Regions from separate parts of the Homo sapiens genome. Here region 2 is linked to region 1. Evidence: fine-mapped expression QTL. A gene starts in region 1. The other region holds a variant in brackets. All regions are shown on one strand. Distances are from middle to middle.

Evidence for each region.
Region 2: its variant is fine-mapped to the expression of NADK in whole blood (TOPMed, PIP 0.98).

Annotation. Positions count from the first base shown.
Region 1 is chr1:1,771,362-1,783,108 of GRCh38, forward strand. NADK (NAD kinase) reads right to left here and starts at 7,109. Exons shown (of 12, transcript NM_023018.5): 1 at 6,928-7,109. RefSeq lists enhancers at 2,747-3,248, 8,885-9,054, 9,065-9,124, 9,135-9,204, 9,215-9,314 and 1 more and silencers at 6,625-7,824, 11,409-11,703.
Region 2 is chr1:1,749,306-1,761,052 of GRCh38, forward strand. NADK (NAD kinase) reads right to left here. Exons shown (of 12, transcript NM_023018.5): 4 at 7,876-8,005; 5 at 7,198-7,303; 6 at 6,953-7,038; 7 at 6,069-6,171; 8 at 5,239-5,393; 9 at 4,979-5,078; 10 at 4,746-4,903; 11 at 4,262-4,344; 12 at 1,927-3,755. The coding sequence ends at 3,599. LOC112268218 (a long non-coding RNA gene) reads left to right here. Exons shown (of 2, transcript XR_002958243.2): 2 at 610-2,437. Among named protein-coding and RNA genes, the nearest start is that of NADK, 23 kb to the right of the region's middle. RefSeq lists enhancers at 3,819-4,348, 10,689-11,646. The variant A/G (reference allele first, on the strand shown) is at 5,767.

The sequences.
Region 1 (11,747 bases):
CAAGCAGGCTTCTCTAAAGGAAAGGACAAGCTGATAAAATTCACATGAAAATGTAAAGTATCTAGACCAGCTGAAAAAACTTTGAACAAGAACAAACGCGAAGGGCTAAGTTCATGACTTGTTGAAAAACTACGGGAACCAGACAGCGTGGCAGCATCAAGACGGACATACACATCAAGGAAACAGGACGGCCAGCCCAAAGGTAGACGCCACAGACCCTCACACACATGCAGTCCATGAATTTTTGACAGGTGCTGAGGTGATTCAACATGAGGAGGATCATCTTTTCACCTAATAGTTCTGAACAACTGGACAGCCACGTCTAAAAGAACGAAGCCCAACCACTTCCTCATACTACATACAAATATTAACTCAGAATGGATTATAGACCTAAATGTGAGGACTAAAACTATGAAACTTTTTAGAAGAAAGCACTGGAAATTTTTTTTTTTTTGTCTTTTTGTGAGACAGGATCTCCCACTGTTGCCCAGGCTGGAGTACAGTGGTGTGATCTCAGCTCACTGCAGCCTCAACCTTCCAGGCTCAAGCAATCCTCCCACTTCAGCCTCCCAAGTAGCTGGGATTACAGGCATGCACCACCACACCTGGAAATTTTTTTTTTTTTTTGGTGGAGATGGGGTCTCCCTATGTTGCACAGGCTGGTTTCAAACTCCTGGTCTCAAGTGATCCTCCCACCTTGGCCTTCCAAAGTGTTGGGATTACAGGCGTGAGCCACCTCACCCAGCTGGAAAAAGTCTTAGTGGTGTTTAAAATCTTTTATACTTAATGGAACCCTGAATTTTTTTTTTTTTTCCTGTTTTAGGCAGGGTCTTACTCTGTCCCCAGGCTGGAGTACAGTGATGTAATCATGGTTCACTGTAGCCTCTACCTACTGTGCTCAGACAATCTTCCCACCTCAGCCTCCTGAGTACCAGGGACTACAAGCATGCACCACCATGCCTGACTAATTTTTGTATTTTTTTGTAGAGATGAGGTTTTGCCATGTTGCCCAGGCTGACCTCGAACTCCTGGGCTCAAGCAATCTCTCTGCCTCAGCATCATAATGTGCTTGGATTACAGGCATGAGCCACTGTGCCTAGCCAAAACACTGTTAAGAAAATTAAAATACAGTTGGGTGTGGTGGCTTGTGCCTGTAATCCCAGCACTTTGGGAGGCCGAGGCGGGAGGATCGCTTGAGTCCAGGAGTTCAAGACCAGTTCTGTGTCTTGCTAGTGGTTATATAATTAATTTAAGAGGTAACACTGCATAGAGCCATACACACATGTAAAACTGGTGAAACCTGAATAAGGTCTATAGTTTAGTTAGCAGTATTTCAATTCCCTGGTTTTGATATTGTACTATGGAGGTGTATGGAGGTGTAAGATGTTAACACAAGGGCCGGGCATGGTGGCTCATGCCTGTAATCCCAGCACTTTCGGAGGCCAAGGCGGGCGGATCACCTGAGGTCAGGAGTTTGAGACCAGCCTGACCAACATGCAGAAACCGCGTTTCTACTAAAAATACAAAAAATCAGCCCGGCGTGGTGGCGCATGCCTGTAATCCCAGCCACTCGGGAGGCTGAGGCAGGAGAATCACTTGAACCTGGGAGGGGGAGGTTGCGGTGAGCTGAGATCACGCCATTGCACTCCAGCCTGGGCAACAAGAGCCAAACTCCATCTCAAAAAAAAAAAAAAAAAGATGTTAACACAGAGGGAGCTGGTGAAGGGCACAGGGGTCTCTCTGTACTATTTTTACAACTTCCTATGAATTAGTCTATGATTATTTTTTTTTTCCCCAGACGAAGTCTCGCTCTTGTCCCCCATGTTGGAGTGCAATGGCGCAATCTTGGCTCACTGCAACATCTGCCTCCAGGGTTCAAGCAATTCTCCTGCCTCAGCCTCCTGAGTAGCTGGGATTACAGGTGCCCGCCGCCACACCCGGCTAATTTTTGTATTTTAAGTAGAGATGGGGTTTCACCATGTTGACCAGGTTGGTCCTCAAACTCCTGACCTCAGGTGATCCGCCCGCCTCGGCCTCCCAAAGTGCTGGGATTACAGGTGTGAGCCACCGCACCCAGCCAATTATTTCAAAATAAACAGTTAATAAAGGTCAGACACAGTGGCTCACACTTGTAATCCCAGCACTTTGGGAGGCCGAAGCAGGGGAATCACCTGAAGCCAGGAATTGGAGACCAGCCTGGGCAACACAGCAAGACCCCGTCTCTACAAAAACATTAATAAAAAATAAACAAATCAAAATCACAAAATGTTAAAAAAAATGTATTATTACTGCTACATTACCTAGAAGCTCTATTTTGTGTGTGTGTGTGTGTGTGTGTGTGTGTGTGTGTGTGTGTGTGTGTGTGTGTGAGAGAGAGAGAGAAATAGAGATATTGAGAGACTGAGAGGTAGGGTCTTGCTCTGTCACCTAAGCTGGAGTGCAGTGGTGCAATTACAGCTTACTGCAGCCTCAATCTCCCAGGCTTAAGGGATCCTCCCATGTAGCTGAGACTACAGGCATGAGCCACTATGTCCAGCTAATTTTTAAATTTTTTGTAGAGACAGGGTCTCGCTACCTTGAACGGGCTGACCTTGAACTCCTGGGCTCTGGTGGCCCTCCTGTGTTGACCTCCCAAAGCATTGGGATTACAGGCATGAGCCACTGCACCCAGCCTAGAAGCTCTGTTCATATTTATTTGCGAAGATCAATTTGATGACTAAGCAGTAAACTAATTTATAAAATAATATTAAATATTAAAACCAACTTTAAACAATTATCTTCACCTATGTATGTGTGTGTGTGTATATATATACACACACACACACACATATATATATATTTAACAAGTATCTCCAATACCACAACCAGTGTATTTTTTGTTTTTTTGAGATGGAGCTTCGCTGATGTTGTCCAGGCTGGAGTGCAGTGGCGCGATCTCGGCTCACCGCAAACTCTGCCTCCCAGGTTCAAGCAATTCTCCTGCCTCAGCTTCCCAAGTAGCTGGGACTACAGGTGTGCGCCACCACGCCCAGCTAATTTTGTATTTTTAGTGGAGACCTGCCTCTTAATTCTCCAACATGGAGGGGTTTCTCCATGTTGGTCAGGCTGGTCTCAAACTCTCAACCTCAGATGATCCGCCCGCCTTGGCCTCCCAAAGTGCTGGGATTGCAGGCGTCGCCACCGCGCACGGCCACCATTATGCCTCGGCCTCCCACAGTGCTGGGATTACGGGCGTGGCCACTGCGCGCGGCCACCATTGTGCCTCGGCCTCCCACAGTGCTGGGATTGCAGGCGTGGCCACCGTGCGCGGTCACCACTGTATTTTTTGACAAGGGTGAGTCAGGACTGACACTTAATTCATTTGTTTGATATATTAACTGCTTTAAAAGGACACACAATGCTAGCTGCACCAAAGTGCATTCAAATTCCTCATAGCATGAATCTAATTTTAAAAAACCTTTGTAGGGCGGGCATGGTGGCTCACGACTGTAATCCCAGCATTTTGGGAGGCCGAGGCGGGCAGATCACGACATCAGGAGTTCAACACCAGCCTGGCCAAGATGGTGAAACTCCGTCTCTACTAAAAATACAAAAAAAATTAGCTGGGCGCGGTGGCAGGCGCCTGTCATCCCAGCTACTCAGGAGGCCGAGGCAGGAGAATCGCTTGAACCCAGGCGGCAGAGGTTGCAGTGAGCTGAGATCACGCCACTGCCCTCCAGCCTGGGGGACAGAGTGAGACTCCGCCTCAAAGAAAAAAAAAAAATCCTCTGTATTAGGAAGTTTTATTAGAAAAAAATACTAGAGCACAATAAGAAAATATTCATAACGAACTTATACAAAGTAGCAAGGAAAACATTAAGATGCCAATAAATAAATGTGCAAAGAACATGAACAAAAGTCACACACACACAAATACAAACATAATACACGAGTTCGTTCCCATGTAAGAACTCAATCAATATTTGTTGCAAGACTAAATGAAAAAGGAAAATTTATTTAGTGACAGAAATGGGGAAACATTCAACCTCAACCCTGAGTGGGAAAAAACTTACTGCCCACTAAATTACCCATCTCATCTCACCCCGGTAAATAATGCCCAGTGCTGGCATGCACACTGGCAGTATACAAACTGAGAAAGACTTTCTGGAAAGTGCTACAGCCATGTGACCACAGGGCTTCACCCTGTGACCTCATTAAACCTAAGCAGATTACAGGTCTGAAGGGGGCTTTCTTTAGATGTGGCTCCACCTACTTAGGGGCAGATGAAGAAAACAGGGGTCTGGGCAGTTCTGAATGGGAAGGCCAGGCATCACCTCCCTCTTCAGTTGCACAAAGTGTGCGTGGCATCCTCACATCCCATCTGCCTCAATTTCGCTTTTTCTCTGAACACTTTTCACCATCTGTCTGAAGCACACACACACATTTTATTCACTTCCCCATTCCCATGCATGAATGCTAGGACCTTTGCAATTGTGGGCCAGGAAAGATTGCAAATGATAAGCCACCAGCACAGAGAGTAGAAATGAAATCCTGGGGTTACAAGCTAAAGCATTACTGACACCCACTTGTCCAGAACGGCTGAAGCTGGGCGGTGACTGTCAACAGGTATATACGGACTAGAAAGTGGAGCTGCTGGAGGAGGCCCTGTACCTTCCTGCCATGACACAGCCTCCCCCCAAGTGCTGGGCTTGTGTGCTCAACACTCCCTCTTGCTGTCATCCTACCACACCTGCAGACTGGAGGTAATCCAGATGCAAGGCCGTCGAGTCCCGCAAACACCCACCTGCCTCTTAATTTTCCAAGTGAGACCTACATTTCCTCAAGCGTGAAGCTCAATAAAATCAACTATTGTTTTCCGTTTTCATCACGAGCGCCACTTTCCCCCTATTTGTTCACCGCCTCCACTCCACAAGAACTGCTCTTGACTTGGCCAACTTTCTGGGACACCCTCACTACAAGGATTTATGAGTCAAACAGGTTTTTGTGCTAGCCTGGAAATCTAACTGCTGACAGCAGTTGTTTCAAGAAGAAAATGCTGTTTTGGAACCAAACAGCAGGCTGCCAACTGAAACAACATAAACCCACCTCCAAGTTCAAATGAAACAAACAAACAAAAAGACTGGTCCAAGTGAGGCAAGCTGTGGTGGCTCACACCTGTAATCCCAGCACTTTGGGAGGCCAAGGTGGGCTGATCACGAGGTCAGGAGTTCGAGACAAGCCTGGCCAACACAGTGAAACCCGTCTCTACTAAAAATACAAAAATTAGCTGAGCGTGGTGGTGGGCGCCTGTAATCCCAGCTACTCAGGAGGCTGAGGCAGGAAAATCACTTGAACCCGGGAGGTGGAGGTTGCAGTGAGCCGAGATTGTGCCACTGCACTCCAGCCTGGGCAACAGAGCTAGACTCTGTCTTAAAAAAAAAAAAAAAAAAAAAAGACTGGTCAAAGTGGCTTACGTCTGTAAGATCAGCACTTTGGGAAGTGGAGGCAGGAGGATCTCTTGAGGCCAGGAGGTTGAGACTAGCCTGGACAACACAGTGAGACTCTATCTCTACAAAAAATTTTATAAATCAGCTAGGTGTGGTGGTGCAGGCCTGTAATCCCAGCTACTCAGGAGGCTGAGGTGGGAGGATCAATTGAGCCCAGGAATTTGAGGTTACAGTGAGCTATAATCATGCCACCATAAACACGCCTGGAGGACAGAGTGAGGCCCTGTTTCTAACATACACACACATATACACACAGAAACATCTCGAGAGGACACCTCCAAATGATGAAGCTATTTTGTTGGGTACTGCGGTGGCACCTGTGATTCCTCAAGTAGCTTGGAATCAGCGTGCTAACACCATAAAGTGGCTGCAAAAGTCCCAGTGAAGTCACTGCTGAGAGCAAACAGGCCTTACAGAGAAGTTCCAAGGGGACAGGAAATTTCCAGAGGCTTGAGAGGACAATGTTCAGGGGAATAAGTACTTGAAGGGAATTATCTAACAAGGTGTTAAAGTAACTAGCTTCTTAGACAAGATGACATCAGGAGGAAAAAAAAACTTATTAAGGCAAACATGTCAGTTTCAGGCCAACTAAGGCTGTCAGAGAGACATGGAACACAAGAAGAGAAGAGTTTTGAAATGTATTCCCATCAAGAGCCAAGAATAATGAACTTTTGAATGTAAAACTTAGTGTGTTCCAAAACAAGAAAGGAAAAATAACTTGTTACTCGGAATCGAAGCCAAAAGGAATCTCATTGCTTGGGGAGGAGGGATGGGAGGGTGGGGGTGGTCCTTGGCCTGGGAAGGAAAACTCCACCAGGCCTTCGGAGCTGGGCACGCCCTGTTCCCACAATTAAGAAAAAAAACGACGACCTAGAGCTCAAGGCCGGTGCTGACATCTGACCTACTGGATGGCAGCCGCCTGTAGGAACATCACCATAGACTATTGGAATTTTCTGGCAAGTACTGGGCACTAAATCAGAGATGTGTTTTTAGAGAATTCCATGCCAATACTGCTGTATAGAATCTTTTATTCATACTTTCCCACTAGGTTTGGGCCCCTCTAAGCTTTCACGAGTCAAAGACCCCTCCTGCTTGCTGAAACCACCCACGGAAGGCCGGACACCGAGGACCTGGCCGCCCAAGCAGAGGCGACTGACAAGCGCGGTCCGGGCTGGACGGCCCCACCTTCCCCGCCCGGGAGAGCCAGGCCGGACAGCGGCCTCCCTCAGACCCGTCCCCAAGGCCGAGCCTCGCCCTGGGCCGTGCTGGTGCCCCATTCGGGACGGAGCGGTGGCCCGTCAGCACTTCCACGGCCTCCTCAGCAGGCCAGATGGGCAGGGCCGGCCTGGTGTCTCCCCGCCTGGCCGCGCGCTCGCGGGCAGCGATGACCCCAGGCAGCGGGCGACCCCAGGCGGACGGCAGGCCGGGTCTGCTCACTCACCGTTCGCTGCCGCGGGCGCCTGCGGGGGCGTCTACATGCCGGACCGAGCCCGCAGGCCCCGCCGCCGCGCCGCCGCCAGCCGTCGCTACCTGGCCCTTGGCGCCCTGGCCGCCTGTTGCCCCATGGCCGCCCGGACCCCGGCGCCGGCGCCGCCGAGCAGCAATGCGCCGCGCCCGCCCACTGCGCAGGCGCACCCGCCACGCATGCGCGCTGCCGCGCACGTGGGGCGTCCCGCGCGTCTGCCGGGTCCCACCGGCGCCGGGACACCCCGCGCGGGCGGGAGGCGGCGGGCGTGGCGGGAAAGAGGCGGGCGGTGGGGAAGAGGGGCGAATCGCGGTGGAGAGCAGTGACCAGGGAGTGGAGGCGGGCAGCGGGGACAGGGGCGGGCGTCCGCGACTCGGGTAGGCGGGGGTCGGCGCCCCGAGGAGGGCGGCCCCCGGCTCCCGTCCCCACTCACCTGCCGCGTCCGGAGGGCGCCCCCGGGTCCGCCCGCCACGTCTACGCCTAGGCGCCCCCGACATTGTGATCCCAGCCCGGCGTCCCGCCCCCAACTCACCGCCACCGCGGGCGGGACCTCCCGGACCACGTGGGCCGGCTCAGGGGAGTGCAGGTGCCCCGCGAGAGCTGGCCCCGCCCGCCGCCGCTTCCCTAATTACCGGGCTGTGACACGGTGTGGGCCGAGCCGGATTTGGGAACCGAAACTTAGAGCAGCTGCGGCAGCGCTGCGCTCCCTCGGGGCTGTCCGTCGGGGCTGGGAGGGCGGCCCTGCGCCTGGGGGAACCGCGATCGGCCTCACGCCCACCTCTAGCGGCCAGGTGCGCCTTGCACGCCCACGAACGTCCTCAGAGGTCTACGCTTGGGATCCCAAGGCTGGCAGTGGAGGGAGGACCCGGTGGCCTGGGGCACCTCTAGGGGGACCAGGGAGCCGTGTTTTGCGCACCCCACAGGCTGGAGGACTCGGGGAGTTGGGGGAGGAGGCCAAAGCCACAGGAGCGGACTTTGTAGTGTTTGTTGGAACTGCGGGTCCCACCCAGCCCGCACTTGCTGAACTGGTGGCTGCTCATCAGCGCCTTCAGGCCTCAAATATCCCAATAATGTGCCCTATACCCAGTTCTCAGCTCTCGAGTCACTGTCAGGTAAACTGGCAATGCACGACCAGCTGCTCTAACCTGCTGGTCCCCCAGGTGCCAGACATTGTTTTGTTTTTCTGAGATAGTGTCTCATTCGTCCCCCAGGCCGGAGTCCAGTGGCGGGCTCACGGCTCACTGCAGCCTTGACCTCTCAGGTGCAAGCGATCCTTCCACTTCAGCTTCCCTAGTAGTTGGGACTACAAGTAGGTCCCGCCACACTCGACTACTTCATTCATATATATATATATTTGTGTGTGTGTGTGTGTGTGTGTGTAGAGATGAGGTTTTACCATTTTGCCCAGGCTGGGTCTCAAACTTCACCCGCCTCGGCCTCCCAAAGTACTAGGATTATAGGCGTAAGCCACTGCACCTGGCCCAGCCATTGTTTTCTGAGGTTCAGTCCCTGTCTATACTTTCTGTGTGATCACCTGGCCCAGGGTCGGTGTGGACCTGAGTCCTCTGCAGCCCTTCCCCACACCCGCATACCTGCTCTCTGGTCAGGACTCCTGGGACTTGAATCCAGAGACACGGAACACGGCCTGGCCAAGTCTTCCTGAAAAACACAGCTCTTCAGTTCAGGACCACAGTGAAGTACAGGGCACCAAGGGTGACTGGAAAGGGAAGCAAGGATCATGAGAACTTGGGGGATTTCTTAAGCTCTGTAACTTCTCCCGGGGTTATTTTGCAAACCCAACTGTTTCAAAGTGACCACCAGCCACACCCACAGAAGCGGCCTTGAGCTGCCCAGTTCTTTTTCTTTGGCGGGGGGAGAGGGGGCGGATAAGATCATTAACATAATAATGCGTGAGCTGAGTTTTTGCATATGATCATTAGCATAATAATGCTTGATCTAGATGGCGCACCCACAAGCCAGGCACTGAGCCAGGCCTCAGTAGAATCTTCTAGAGTGGAGGCAGTCAACTGCTTCTGCAGAGGCAACCAGTGACTGTCGTGGGCCCCAGGTCACACAGCAGGTGCCCTTCGCGTGTCCCGCTGTGTAGGGAGCTCCAGCAGCTGCCCCGTCTGTGGCATGAAAACCCTTTGTCTACCCTGGGCCTGGGCACTGCCTGCAGGAGAGCTTCCCTGTTTCAGAGATGAGAAAACAAAACCAGGGCTGTGGTTTCCTTCAGCTGACAGGTTGTGCAATTTCTCAGGGCAGGCCCCGGATATGACCTTGAAGATTCAGGGGCCAAGATCTCACACCCACACCTCACCCCAGGCCTGGCCAGCAATAACTAAGACCAAAGCTGGGAAGGCTCCTTAGGGCACCCAGAATGGTCCAAGAGGCAGCTTTGCTTGGGCTGAGACCAAAGGGAAGAGATGTTCCCGCAGCAGGAACAGAAGGGTCCAGGGCTATCATGGGGGCTTCTGCCAGATGGTGCACAGGAAGAGGCTCTGCCTTCAAGGGATTGGGGGTCAGGAAAGGCCCCCTCCTGCCTGACCAGGCCCCAGGGATGGGGCAGCAGTGGGTGGCATCCCCTGCCCTGACCTTCCTCAGCCCCAGGGCTGCCATTGCTCAAGGTGGCAGTGGACTCTTCACATAATTTCGCATTGTTTTTTGTATTCTTTAAGGATGGCTCCCATGTTGTTTACTTCAGAACCCCCAAAACCTGGACCCATCCTCTTCTGGGGGTCAGCAGGGATGGGGAGGGTGGAGGGAGAAGGGGGAACGGAGGCCATGAGGGATGGAGCAGGATGGGGTGCACTGGGGTACAGGTTGCTCCTGGGGAGGCTGAGGAGAGAGGGAAGTTGGCTTCAGGTGGCCTGGCTCCAGTAAACTGGGTGAACGAAGTCTGCCCAGAACCCACAAGGGTAAGTGGCCTGGAGCCTGGGGAAAGGATGACTGGGAAGGACTGAGGCTCCCAGTGAAGGACATCAGTATGGCAGGCTATCTGGTCATCTCATCCAGCCTCCAGCCAGCACCCGGCACAGGCCCTGCCCAGGCTGAAAGCCAGGATAGGGGCGTCTGCAGGGGCCAGTGTCTGGATCTGCTCACATGACAGTCTTCTGTTTGGCCTGGTTTGGGGCGAGGGGCAACCTCTTTCCCAGGATGCCAGCCATGTGCAGGGCATACTGAGGATTCAACAGTGGAAACCAAAGTCCATCAGGTGTTCACCTTCTAGTGGGGCAGACGGGCAAGAAGCAGAATTGGTGGGGGCAGGCAGGGGTTGGGGTACAGTTTTGACCAAGGTACCCAGGGACAAGTGTTTCTCTCTCAGGCAGAGGCAGCAGCAAGGACCAGGACCCTGAAGTGGTGAGAGCCTAGAGTGGGCGGGGATCATCAACAGTAACCACCTGGCAGGACTGGGACTCCCTGTGTCCTCACAAGATCCTTACCAAGCAGCCTAGTATAAGACGAAGTCTCGCTCTGTAGCTCAGGCTGGAGTGTAGTGGCATGATCTCAGCTCACTGCAAGCTCCGCCTCCCGGGTTCAAGCCATTCTCCTGCCTCAGCCTCCAGAGCTGGAGTTACAGGCGCACACCACTGAACCCGGCTCATTTTTTGTATTTTTAGCAGAGACGGGGTTTCATCATGTTGGCCAGGCTGGTCTTGAACTCCTGATCTCAGGTAATCCATCCACCTCGGCCTCCCAAAGTGCTGGGATTACAGGCGTGAGCCACAGCGCCCGGCCACAGCCTGGTACGTTTATTGTCCACATTTTTCACGCGGGGGCCAGAGGCACAGAGAGGCCAAGTAACTTGCTCAAGGTCACCCAGCGAGGAAAGGGAGCTGGGGGGTGGGGGTAGGGGACAGGGCGAGGCCAGAGAGTAGTGGGAGGGGCCGAGGCGGCCTTTCCCGGGAGCGCTCGGTTCCCGGCCGGCCCTTCTATTGGCCCCAGTCACTCAGGCTCCCAGGTCCGGCTCGGGGGGGAGCGGGGGGCCGCGCCAGGCCGCTGAAGTGTCCCCGTTTCGCGTGGGCAGAGCGCGCCTCCCCACGCATCCTGCTGAGGGCCAGCCTCTGCTAGGTGCGTGACACGGAGGGGACAGAACGGAAACCTTGTCCTGCTCAAGTGTGGACGTGCGTGCCACGTGCTAGAGTAAAATTGAGGTGGGGAACCTCCATCCCTGGGACATGGAGCACAGGGGCGACCCCGCGCCGCTTGGTCAAAGGAGGTCCGAGGCCCTGCAGGAACAGCCCACAGCCGGAGCGAGCTGCAGGTCACTCCACTGCCTGTGTCCACCTGCGACAGGTGCGCCCGCGCAAGCGGGGCGGAGCCAGGTGACCCGGACACAGGAAGCGCGCCAGGGGCCCCCACACCGCGGAGCTGCTGGCGACAAAGGGCGCTGCTCCTGCATAGGCCAGGCTAATGCAATCTACAAACTAGATTTCTGTGCCTACAGTTTGAAAATGATTGCAGTTCACTCAGCCAGTGTGGAATTATCCTCCTCTTTCCACACTGCCTTAGTCAGTGCCGCTGTCCAAGTGCACGTTGTTGGCGCCCGTTTTCATTTCCTGTTTTGCTAAGAAAGTGGGGCAGTGGCCTCCATGCCCGCCAAGGGACAGGCAGGCCGCCCCAGGGAGGGGTCCCCCTCAGCTCTGGCTCTTCCAGGCCAAAGCCAAGGGGAAGGGGCACCAGAGGGTCCCAGGTCCCACATGCCAGCTCCCTCAGTCTGCGGGGTGCCAGGCTAGGACACAGAAGCCAACAGGAATCCCCAAAGGGAGGAAGTGGAGTCGGGGGTGTGGCAGCCG
Region 2 (11,747 bases), 22 kb before region 1:
CTGCAGTTTGTCCTCATCAGCAGGTGGGGAAACTGAGGCCGGGGAGTTCTCCAGGCCAAGGTCACTCACGGGCAAGTTCCCGCAGCCTTTGGACCCTCCATACACGTCAGGGCCGCTCATGCTTTCCTGGGCCCTTCACTGGTTTGGAGGAAGCTTCCTGTTGCCCAGAGCGCACTGCCTGTCTCTGAGTGTATGTGTCTCAGTGGCGTCCATGTGTATTTTTCTCTGTGTGTATCTGTGTGAGTCTGTGTGTGTGGTGTGTTTGTGTCTGAGTGTGTGGTGTTAGCGTGTCTCAGTGGCGTCCATGCATATTTTTCTGTGTGGTGTGTCTGTTTGTGTGTGTGTGAATCTACGTGGGTGTTTGTCCATCTTTTTGTCTGGCCTCCTGTCCCCTCTGCACAGAGCAGCTGGGTGGGGATGCTGGTCCTGGGGGCTTGTCAGCAGGATGTGGGCGTGGGGCAGCCCTGGGTGAGGCCTGAGTACAGGCCCCAGGTGCCTCCTGCACAGGGGTGGCTGAGCCAGCTCCTCTGTGGCTCCCGGGTCCCCACCGCCGGTCACTGGGCACCACCTGTCCTGGCCACCCACTCCTGCCCACCCTGCTCTCCGCAGGGGCCTCCTTCCTCTTTCAGCTGTGCGCCCTGGTTGTGGAGGCTCCTAAGGAGGTTGTGGCCTCGGTTTACCACCTGCCTTGGCTCCTTGGTGTTGCCAGACCCTGAAGGCAGCCCATGCCCTGGCTGAGATCCTTCTGGGGCGGGATGTGCTGGAAGCAGCTGAACCACGTGGTGATGTACCAGCTCCTGCTGTCCCCTACATCCCCAGCACCGCCAGCCTTCCCTGGGCTCCTCCGGCCGGCTCCTCTACCCTGTACCCGCCCCACCCTGCTACCACCCCCCAACCAGACTTCCAGCTCCAGGCAGGGTCGCAGCCTCCTGGGCTCCCAGCAGGACAGGCCTCACCCAGACCCCGCAGGAGCCATGGGACTTGGGCTGGGTCTTTGGGCCTGGCTGCAGCCCCTTTGGACCTGACCTGAGGAGACACCCTGGCTGTGGGAGGCAGGGTGGGGGTGCCGGGCCCAGCACAGAGGTGCCCAGGGTGCAGGCTGGCACTGGCCCGGCAGGGACCGTGGATGCCGCCGTTTCAGGCTCGAAAAGGTTTCCATGCCCCAGAGCCTGAGCCCGGCAGCCCCCGAGGATGTCTTGGGGACTCTGTGCTCCCCAAAGCCGAGAAGGTTAGGCTTGACCCACAGCCTCTTCCAGGCCGGGGAGGCAGAGGCGCTCCAGGTCGGTAGGGCGGGGCCCACAGCCCAGGGTTTCACGTCCCCAAAACGGGGCAGGGTGCTGGAGGCGCAGGTGTCCACAGGGTGGTCGTTTTGGTCTCTCCTGGACTTGCACGCGTGTAGTGCAGACTGGCTGCCGGCAAAGCCCTGAGCCACATTCATCTGGGCCTTGTTAGGACAACAGGGACGGTGCGGGGTGGGGGGGTTGCGGGGCGCAGGACCACGTCAGTGGAGGGAGGGAGGCCGATATCGGTGCCCAGGCTGGGCCCAGGGGCCAGCGGGTCCTCACCTGGCTTGTGGCTGCCCCTGTTAGGCAGCCCGGATGGAGGGGCTCTTCCAGCCCTGCTGGCCCCGGGAATGCAGGGACTCAATTCCCCCTGGTCTCAGTGGCTCTTCCGGGAGCAACACAGCCTGCCCGAGTCGACACCACCCCTCGGGTTTGAGTCCCTTCTGTCTACCCCTACCCCCGCCAGGGCACTGCCCCCTTGCCCGGAAGAGGCAGCGGCACCCCCAGCCCCTTGGGGAGGATGCCCTGCCGGCCCCACACTCGGTGGATGGGCATTTTGGGGCTAGGATTTAATGGGGGTGACCCTGCCCGACCCCTCTATGTTGGTTCCACGGCGTCAGAAGAAAGCTGTTATTAACCCAGCTTATTTTCTACAAGTCTTGTTTATTGAAAGGATCTGAAAAGCGTAATAAGGCTTTCAATGACATTTAATACATTTTCAAGAAATTAATATGAAACATTAAAATTTACTTCAAAAATCCAAAGTTTTCTAGATCATTCCCATCTCACGCTGCTTTAGAGGTCAGTTCACACCTTCTGTGTTCAGATGAGCGGCTGGAATTCTGAACACTGCCGTCTTCCAGCCCTAACGCTGGGCGCTGGTCCCTCTCTCCTAAGCCCACGGCTGGGCTTCCCCTGTGCCCAGGGTCATGGCGGACTTCAAGCCAGGCCGGCTGCCCAGAATCACACTCAGGGTTTTTGGACGCTCAAGTCCACAGATGCTGAGGTGCCCAGACGAGGGTGAGCAGGGAGACACATGCCTCGGAGAACGTGCCCAGGCTGGGCCAGGCGGCTGCGGGAAGCTCCTCACGGGCAGAGGAGAACGTCTTGTGCCTTCCTTATCGATCTCCAGCAGATGAGGGCAACTTCGTGTGCAAAACTCAGAGAGCAGTTACTCAAAAAAAAGACACCCGGGCAGCAGTAACCAGGACACCAGGGTCCGACCACGGCCTCCACACACCTGTGCCCGTGGAAGACGCGGGCGCCGGGGTAGGCAGCATCCACGTGCTCCACAGCTGCCGGTGCTGGGCAGGCTGGAGACTCACGGGAGAGGCAGGAGGAGAATCAGCGTGTTGAGTCCCTCGCTGTGTTAGTGTGAAAAATTCTCATTACAGTTGCAAATAAAAGGGATCACGATCACTAGCCCCGGAAACCCTCATCTCCCGGACCATCAGGATCGCACTGAACAGAATGGTCCCCTAATGGTCCCTGAGGACAGCGTCTTGCAGAACATAAATGTAAACATTGAATGGCAGACGACTCCCTTCCCCTTGAAATCTTCACAAAAGTGTGTACGAGAAAGTATGTACATCAGCACTTCAGAAAGTTTAAAAGAGTCTCTAAAAAGTATATACAGGATTTAAACTACCTTCCTGGGAGCAGAAGCTACGTGAGGAATGTGTGGGTCGCTGGCGATGCCAGCCCCCTTCCCGCTGAGTGTCCCAGACTCAGTGCTGGCCTCAAGCGGGGAGGGCTGGATGGCAGGGGACGCATCCAACCCTCTCCAGAAACTGAGCAGAACAAAACCGCCTTGCCAGCCACTGGCAAGACCATGCTTTCAATGGCGCCTCCGCCAGGGGCTTCCCTGCAGAAGTTTTAGGGGAAGAGGTGCAGGTCAAGGGGAAAAGCATGGCAGCTCAAGGAAGGTTTTTGGCTGAGACATTTATTATCAACATTGAAGGACAGGTCGAGTCATTCTGACTCCTCTGAATTTCAACCGACTGATTTGCGGAAAAATATCCTGGCATGGAAATTGCGGCAGCTGGAGGCCGCGCTCCAGGGACCCACCGCGGGGTGTCAGCAGGACAGAAGCACTCCCAGCCCATTTCTCACGCTTCTTTAGAAATGCAAAAAAAGTCAGACATTTTAAAAAAACAGCTGATCTGGACAAAAGGCAGACCCAGGCTCTAACCCAGCTACAGAAAGGAAGTGGCCGTGCCACTGAGACAGGCGGTCACAGACACACGCAGATTGGTCTGTCCCCAGAGGGCGCTTGGAGGGCAGCGGAAGGATTCGGGCCTGGATAGGGGCTTGACCTAGCCCTCCTCCTCCTCCTCCTCCTCCTCCTCGAAGTGGGCTTGCTTCTTCCGGACGTTCCAATGCAGGCACTGGGCGAGGCTCTCAAACCAGTCGCTCACGGGGTCCCGCACACAGATGGAGGGGAGCGGGTAGCATGAGGTAGTGATGCTGATGCTGGGACGGGAGAGCAGCAGCCTGAGCCAGGGCTTCCAGAAAGGCCCACCCCCGGCCAAGAACCCTTCCTCCCTCCCTCCCTGGGAATGGCCGGGACTCTTTTCCTGTGGGGCCGGGCAGCCCCTCCCCGAGGCAGGCTTGAGCAGTGCCCCATGGGTGCTGGGACAGAGCCATCCCAGGTCCTGGAGGGGACGGTGCAGGGAACTGACAAACTCTGCCCCAGGGCCCTCAGGGGTGAGGTCCCAGGAGGTGGGTGGGGGTGGGCAGCAGTGCCAGGGGGGACACCCTCAGGCCTCTGCTGGGGCCAGGCCTGCATGTGCCACCGTATGCGACCCGCTGCCCCCAGGACGGGTGCCCCGACTGTGATGCTGCAAGACCCAGGGACTCAGGCCCTGTGGTGCCCTAGGGGACAAGCTGTGTCTACAGGCCAACCGCAAGAGGGCAGGCGCTGCCTGGCCCGGGGAGGAGGTTGGCAGGCAGCGCCCAGCCCGGCATGCAGCCCACACCTGTCTCCATGGCGGATCTCTTGTCTCTTCCGTCCATCAAAGGACACCCATGCTGTGTTCCTTGCTTCAGGTGACAGCATGATCTGAGGGTCAAGCAGGGAGAGGTGTGGGCCCCCAGCTGTGGGGAGGACGCTTCTAGGCACCCACCCCTGAGTGCTCGCCAGAGGTCGAAGGTTGGGCAGCTCTGACCCTGCCTTGCGGACGGTGCAGTGCACGTCCTACAGGCACCGGCCCAGCTCAGCACCGCCAGAGACCAACAATGGCAGAAAGCCCCTCAGACCCGGGCCCTGGGCACCTTGATGGACAGAACTCGGGCACCAGCAAGGGAAGGCTTGCATCTGAGGGGGCACAGGATGGCCCTAGGATGACGAGGCCGCGTCTGAGGCTGGAGCCAGCATGGCAGAGCGGGGTGCTAGGTCCCGGCTTTGTGTTGCACGGGGTCAAATGACTCACAAACCGGAAAAGGAGTGTCGTTGGCTCTGACCTTCAGCTCGACCCCTGCGGGGACCACGATGGGCCGGAAGGACAGCGAGTGGGGGCAGATGGGCGTGATCATGATGGCCGGCACGTTGGGGTGGATCATGGAGGCCCCGGCCGCGGCCGCATACGCCGTGCTGCCCGTCGGGGTGGACACGATCACTCCTGACAGGGACAGGCGCAGGCGTCACTCCCGCCCGAGGGACGCTCAGGGCCCCAGGACAGTGCTGCGGGCCTTACCGTCGCCCTGCACCGTGGTGATGAGGTGTCCGTCCAGGTAGACATCCACATTGGACAGGTAGGAGGAGGGGCCTCTGTCAATCACCACCTCATTCAGGACCTGGAGGGGCGACAGCATTGCACACTCAGGGCGGGGGATGCCGCACGGCTCGCAGACACCCTCCGTCTCACCCAGCCGGGCTCTCCGGAAGGTCCTCATCCCTGGGACCGAAGTCGCCCCACCCTGGGCCCCTCACCGAGGCCGAGGCGCCTCCACTCACCTGGTACTGCATGGCCTGCTTCCCGACATCCATGTCCAGGCCTGCAGCCTGCGAGCCGTTCTCACCCAGCCCATTGTGCACGGCCGTCTTCTTCCCCCGGAGCTCCTTCACCACCCTGACCTTCAGCCGACTCCGGAGAACAACAGCTGCGTTCCCTGAGGTCCAGCAGGAGTCAGAGGGCATGCATCAGGGAAGTCAGTGGGGTCAGGGGCCCCACCCCAGGGAGGCCAGTGGGAGTCAGAGGGCTCTTTCTTCTCCCAAGTTGACACACTTCTGTGCCTTTTTCTTTTTATTTTGAGATGGAGTCTCACTCTGTCACCCAGGCTGGAATGCAGTGGTGTGATCTTGGCTCACTGCAACCTCTGCCTCCCAGGTTCAAGTGATTCTCCTGCCTCAGCCTCCCAAGTAGCTGGAACTACGGGTGCGCACCACCACGCCCAGCTAATTTTTGTATTTTTAGTAGAGACGGGGTTTCACCGTGTTGGCCAGGATGGTCTCATCTCTTGACCTCGTGATCCGCCCGCCTCG[A/G]CCTCCCACAGTGCTGGGATGACAGGCGTGAGCCACCGCGCCCGGCCGACACTTCTGTGCCTTCTGAGAGTGAGAATCAGCTCACTTCTGCCCAACACACATGGCAGCTTCAACCTGTGATCTGCTGAAACTTCTCAGTGTCAGTAAAAGGTTTGAACCACTCAAGATTTAGAAATCCCTGAATCTTGAAACCTTTAAATGTTGCTCCATGCATCATTAAATGAAAATAAACCCCCCGCAAGCAAGCGAGACAGCAGCGCCATGATCAGAGCTCCTGTGGGCTCCAGAACATTCCAACTCACCCTCTATCACCTGAGTAACTTGGGACTGAAAGTTCTCAAAGCTGAATGGGGTCAGGAAGCCCAGGGAGCCCAGGTGGAAGGCCATGACCGGAGGGACGCTGCCCTGTGAGCCGACGGAGAGGTCACTCAGTGCCCACGCCGTGCACCCCCGCACCACCCAGCTTTCCAGCAGCACCTCAGGAGGGACCCAGCTCTGTGGGGACAGCACCCCGACCCTCTGCAGGAGGGACTGGCCATGTGGACAAGCGGAGGGGGACGTCGCAGGCCAGGGTGGGCCGGGCCACCAGGGCCAAGGTTGGTGTGGGGAGCTGGTGAGGAACAAAGGTGGCAGGGCTGAGCGGCCCCCTGGGCACGGAGGGCTGGGGGAGCTGGCGAGGGCGGGTGGGAGGCAGCCTTGGGGTCGGAGCCTCGCGCCCCACAGGTGCTAATGGGGAGATGGGGAGAAAAGCAGGGCGGGCTGCGGGCATTTCCGGTGTCACCAACATGCAGTGGGCCAAGGGCAGAGCCAGGGTCCCCCACACAGCGTGGCCCTACAGCCCCAGGGGAGAGCTGTGCTGCTGAGAAACCAGGAAGAGGAGCTCAAGGGAGGCCCAGAGGGGATGGGCCAGTAGGCGAGGTCGTTTCCCAGGACCCACCACCCTGCGCCACTCCCTGCTGTCCCAGGCGGGCGCTGGCCACCCCCAGCCGTAGCACTGTGTCCACACTGCCCCTGGCCCCACCGTCGCACCCCACCGGGCTGCCACCATGGGCCTCAGTGCTGGCCGCTCTAGGTGACTGCTCTCGTATAAAGGGGTGAAAAGCAATGGAAGCCATGCTTGTGAGCCCCTCGTTACGCAGCACCTAGACTAGAACCTGGTGTGGGTCTGGAAATGTCAGCGCTTCACCTGGAAAAGCGAGGAAGCGTACAGCAGCGTCCCGTCTCCCCCCAGGCAGATGATGAAGTCTATCTGATTGGAAATGTCATCATAATCTAGGAAACACAAAGCAAAACCAAGAAGAGGCTGTCACACAGTGGCCCCTCTGTGGCGCAGTGCGCAGACACCAATGACAAGGGCAACAGTGCCAGAAGCTTCCAATGGGGCGGGGAACTGTGCTGGAGAAACCAAGGACAGAGCTGCTGACAGCCCACCTTCTCGAAAGGTACAGAATTTCTTCTTCACTGCCCCAAAGCTTTCATCGCTGGCGATGGCAGGGTCTTCTAGCACTTTCTTTTCCACATACACGATCATGTTCTCCTGGAAGCAAAGTGCCAACCTGCTCATTCCACCTGCAGACCCCACCCTCCTGCAGGGAGGTTCCCGACTCACGGGCGCTGTGGTCAGAGACCTGGCATCGTGGCCTGCATGCCCGCCCCCCCACGCTCACGCTGAAACTTCATCACCAACGCGCCAGGAGGAAGCAGGACCTTTAAGAGATGACTGGGCGGAGGGGGCTCCCTCTCAGGAATTGACTAAGGCTGTTATTTCAGGAGTGGCTTTCCTGGGCGCCGCAACCCCCACGCCTGCTCTTCTGAAGAGAAGACACAGCAGGAAGGCCCACGTCAGATGTGGCCCCTTGATCTCGGACTTCCCGGCCTCCAGGGCCACGAGCCCACCAGCTCATTGTTGGTCACCCAGTCTGGTGCTTGCCATGGCGGCACACACAAACCCAGACACCCGGCAGATCCCCACTCAGTCCCCAGTTCCAGACAAGCAGCCGTTGCCCAGCACTTGAGGTGGTTCCCATGGTCTCACGGGGCGGTGATGTGGATGGAGGCCCCCCCAACTCCATGTGCACCCCAGGCCCCCTTCCCCCCTGCCCCGCGTGCCTCCATGAGGTGCGTGCAGAGCTCCTTGAACGGCTGCAGTAGGCTGGCATCTCTCATCTTCTTGATGACAAGGACGCTCTTTGGGGACTTGTTCCACGTCAGCCGCTGGCTCGCGGGGTCCTGAATGTGCCTTTAGGGGAGGAGAAAAGAGTTCACACCAGCTGCGATCTCCCTCTTGCGGAAAAGGTGTATGACTTAGAAAATAAAAAAAAAAATCTTTAAAAAGGTGTTTTCACCTCCCAGGGAAACGTGCTCGGTGGCCACGGGCTCACAGGGCCTAGGGTCGCGCCACAGAGACAGGGTCAGGGGTCAGTAGGGTCCGGAGTGACCACCTCTCACCTGCTTGGCCCATCACACGCAGGCTCAGGCCCACAACCCCCACCCGGGCACCACGCTGACCCAAGTGCACGCACCACAGCCCTTCCCAGCCCCCGGCCACTTGCCTGCCTGGCTCCTCAGTGACGCTGGTGGGGCAGAAATGACCACGAAAGCCCATGGCTGGGCCACTCTTTGCTTGATGCCCTCCTCAGGCCCCCACGAAAACCCAAACCAGTTGACATGGTGACTCTGTCCCTAGGATCCTCTGCACACAGTTTCTGGCCCCACGGGAGCCCAGGACCCCTCAAGGACCCGCTTCCCCCCCTGCACACAGCTCACTACCTCCCTGCATGAACGGACTTTAACCTCACTCACTCTCACAGTAAAAATCACAGGTTTAAAAGTCCGTGGCAGCCCTGACACAGCCACCCGCGCTTTGCTGGCTCTGACCCCGACCACTGTGCCCGGTGTTTCTCCACAGGCAGGGCCCACCCCGGTGGGATTCCCATTACCACGTTAGTCACAGAAAACATCCCAGCCCAGAACCGGGAACACACACCACGGAGCCTGCTCCTGTTCCCAGAAGCCAAGGGAGGGCGCAGCGGGGCTGGCCACCGTCGTCAGCGCTCACCGCCTATCCTCAGCCCCAAAGGACAAGTTCTTATACCACCGCGCCAGCCAGCTAGTTCCAAGTTGCCCAATCGAGAAAGCTGCTGCCTGCCATGCCTCTTCCCAGCAGTGACTTCCCCAGGAGTGTGACCGTCCCACTAACACCCCCAGAACCACAACACAGACGCCGATGGCAGCCACAGGGCCACAGACCTTAGCCCATCGCTTGTGACCTTCGGAAGCTGGTCAGCACTCACCCTGTGCAGGCATTACTGGGAGGCGTGGGGTCACTCATGCCATCCCCTATGAGCTCAGCACCTGCCGGGTCACACATGTGGCTCGCGAGGTAGCCCCTGCCTGCTGGGAGCCGGCCAGTGTGTCCACAGCATCCAGGCCACGCTTGGCGAACACGCGGCCGCCCCATCGGTATGGTCCTGACTGTGCGCCCACACTAGAAGCCTAAGCTCTTCATACTCAAAACTCAAAGCAAAACACAATTGTGATGAGACTTGGTAAAGTTGTTGTAAAAGCAACTAAGTCAAAAGAGCTTCCTACACTTATAAAAATCAAACAAAACAAAACAGTTTCCTCATTGGTCACATGGTCCTCCTGCCTAATCCCTTCTGAAAAAAAGTCCTCAGTTCAGCAGCAAAGAGGCCACACTTCAGCTCCCTGCTCCTAACTGAGCCGGGTGGGACCAAGCCCTCTGTTCCCGTGGCCTCAGACCTGGCCAAGTACCCAGCCTCCAGCCTCGCCCCAGCACTGCGCCAGCCACCGCTCTGGCCCGCGGAACCGGCTGGGCCCCAGGGAAGGCACCCTCAGGCCACAGTCAGGTGGAAGGGCGTTCCCTGCCTCCTAGCCCGCTGCGTCACTCTGCTTGGCTCCGGCCCAAGGGCGTGCAGGTGGCTCACGGTCCTCCGGCCTGGTCAGCCAGCAAAGCCCCCGCCCTGCACACGGCTCCCCCTGCTCTCCCCGCCAACAGTCACCACTGACCCAGTGGCCTGGCCTACACCCATTCCAGCCCTGAGGCTCAGCTGAGCCCAGCCAGAGCCACCAGCAGCGGCGTCGTACACCGGCCCAGGCACCCACCGCTGTGTGTGACCACAAACCAGCGCCTCGACCTCTTCCTGGGTCACCTGCAAAGCAGGACACCAGCCCTTGCAGGCACGCACGGCTGTGGGTACTGCACGGAGAGGGCAGGGGGTGGCGTGAAGCTTGCAGGCACACACGGCTGTGGGTACTGCACGGAGAGGGCAGGGGGTGGCGTGAAGCCAGCATGGCCACAGCCTGGCCCGCCTGGCCAGCTCCTACTGAGACTGTCTCACACATGGGTGGCCACGCACACTGTGACACACGGGCACTCACGCACCTCCACAACACAGGCCCACCAATTCCCTGGACAACAAAACAGGAAGCGGGTGCCCTCCTCACCAGGCGCCCCCACAGGGTCTTGCTCTGGACTATCAGGGAAGACGGAAGTTCAGATGCATGGGAAGCCCTGCCCCTCCACAGCGGGGATGGGAAGCGGGAGGTTATGATCCCAGAGACACAGAGCCCAGAGGGGGCGTGCTCCCATGGGGGTGCCGAGAAAGCTGCATGCCCCTCAAGGCTGCCCCACAAACCCACCGCTTCCTCCTGCGGGGCTGTCTGGCCTCGGGCAGCTCGGGGACCACTGAGTACGCCCTGGTCTGAGGGCTGAGGCAGAACATGCACCTGTCCGGTGACCCCGCCCTGGCCCGAGTGACTGACGGCTGGTGAAGGCAGCAGCTGAGATGCGAGTGACAAAGGAGTGGCTCTGCCAGGACCAGGAAGTGCAGGGAGGGCACCAGGCAGCGGGGGAGAGGCCCGGTGGGGTGCCAGGGACACAGCAAGCACAGGATGGCGGGACAGAGCCACGGCGGGGCCGGGAGGGCAGTGGAGCACTCTGGGTCACCCACGTGGCTGCTGTGCAGGGAAGGGATGGTGAGGCCGCGGCGAGTGGTCAGGAGTCCACACAGCGGAGGGCAGCCGGGCAATAGTGCAGGGGAGCTGCTTGGATATTTTGGGATCAAAGTGACAGAATCTGCAGATGGACTGGATGAGGGAAAGCAAACAGGGGTCGGGCCCCCCGCCTCAGGCATTTGGCAGCAGTGACAGGTCACAGACACTCCGGGAACCAGTGGCACTGAAAGGGCTGGGCCTCAAAAGCACAAGTGCGAGTCACTTCCATCCTAAGGGGCTCCGTCAGCGTCTGGAGCAGCAAGGCCAACCCCCGTCCTGCCTGGGACGCACGCTGCCGCGGGGCCCACACTTTGCAGAGCAGCTCCTCGGATGACTCCCCCGTGGCTCCTGGGACCTGAACTTCGGTGACAGCCCAGGGCTGGGGCCTCCGTCCCTGCTGTGCGCCCCCAGCCTCCATGGCACCGGTGCCTGTCAGCAAAGGGCCATGCAGTGGCCGCCCCCGTATCACACGGCCGCATTGCGCTTTCTGGTCAACAGTCCCCAGCAGCCTGCGCGCTGGAACACTCGGCCCTTCCGCATGGTCCTCCCTTGCAGAAAGTGAAGCATCCATGACTCCGTGAAGGAGGAGGCCCTGAAGAGAGCCCGTTCTGCACAGAGGAAGAGAGCCCGTTCTGCACAGAGGCCTGAGAGCTGAGGCACCAGTCCCAGAAGCAAAGGCTTCTCTGGGGAAGAGGCAATGAGGATGTCTACCAGGTGCAGAATACGACTCTCAGGGCTGGCTGGGAGCTCACTTTTTTCTCTGGAGACAGTCTTGCTCTGTCGCCCAGGCGGAATGCACTTTGATAATCACAGCTCCCTGCAATCTCAACCTCCCAGGTTCAGGTGATCCTCCCGCCCCAGCCTCCTTGGCAACTGGGACTACAGGTGTGTGCAACGATGCCTGCTAATTTTTGTATTTTTCTGAGTCTGAGTCTTGCTCTGTCGCCCAGGCTGGAGTGCAATGG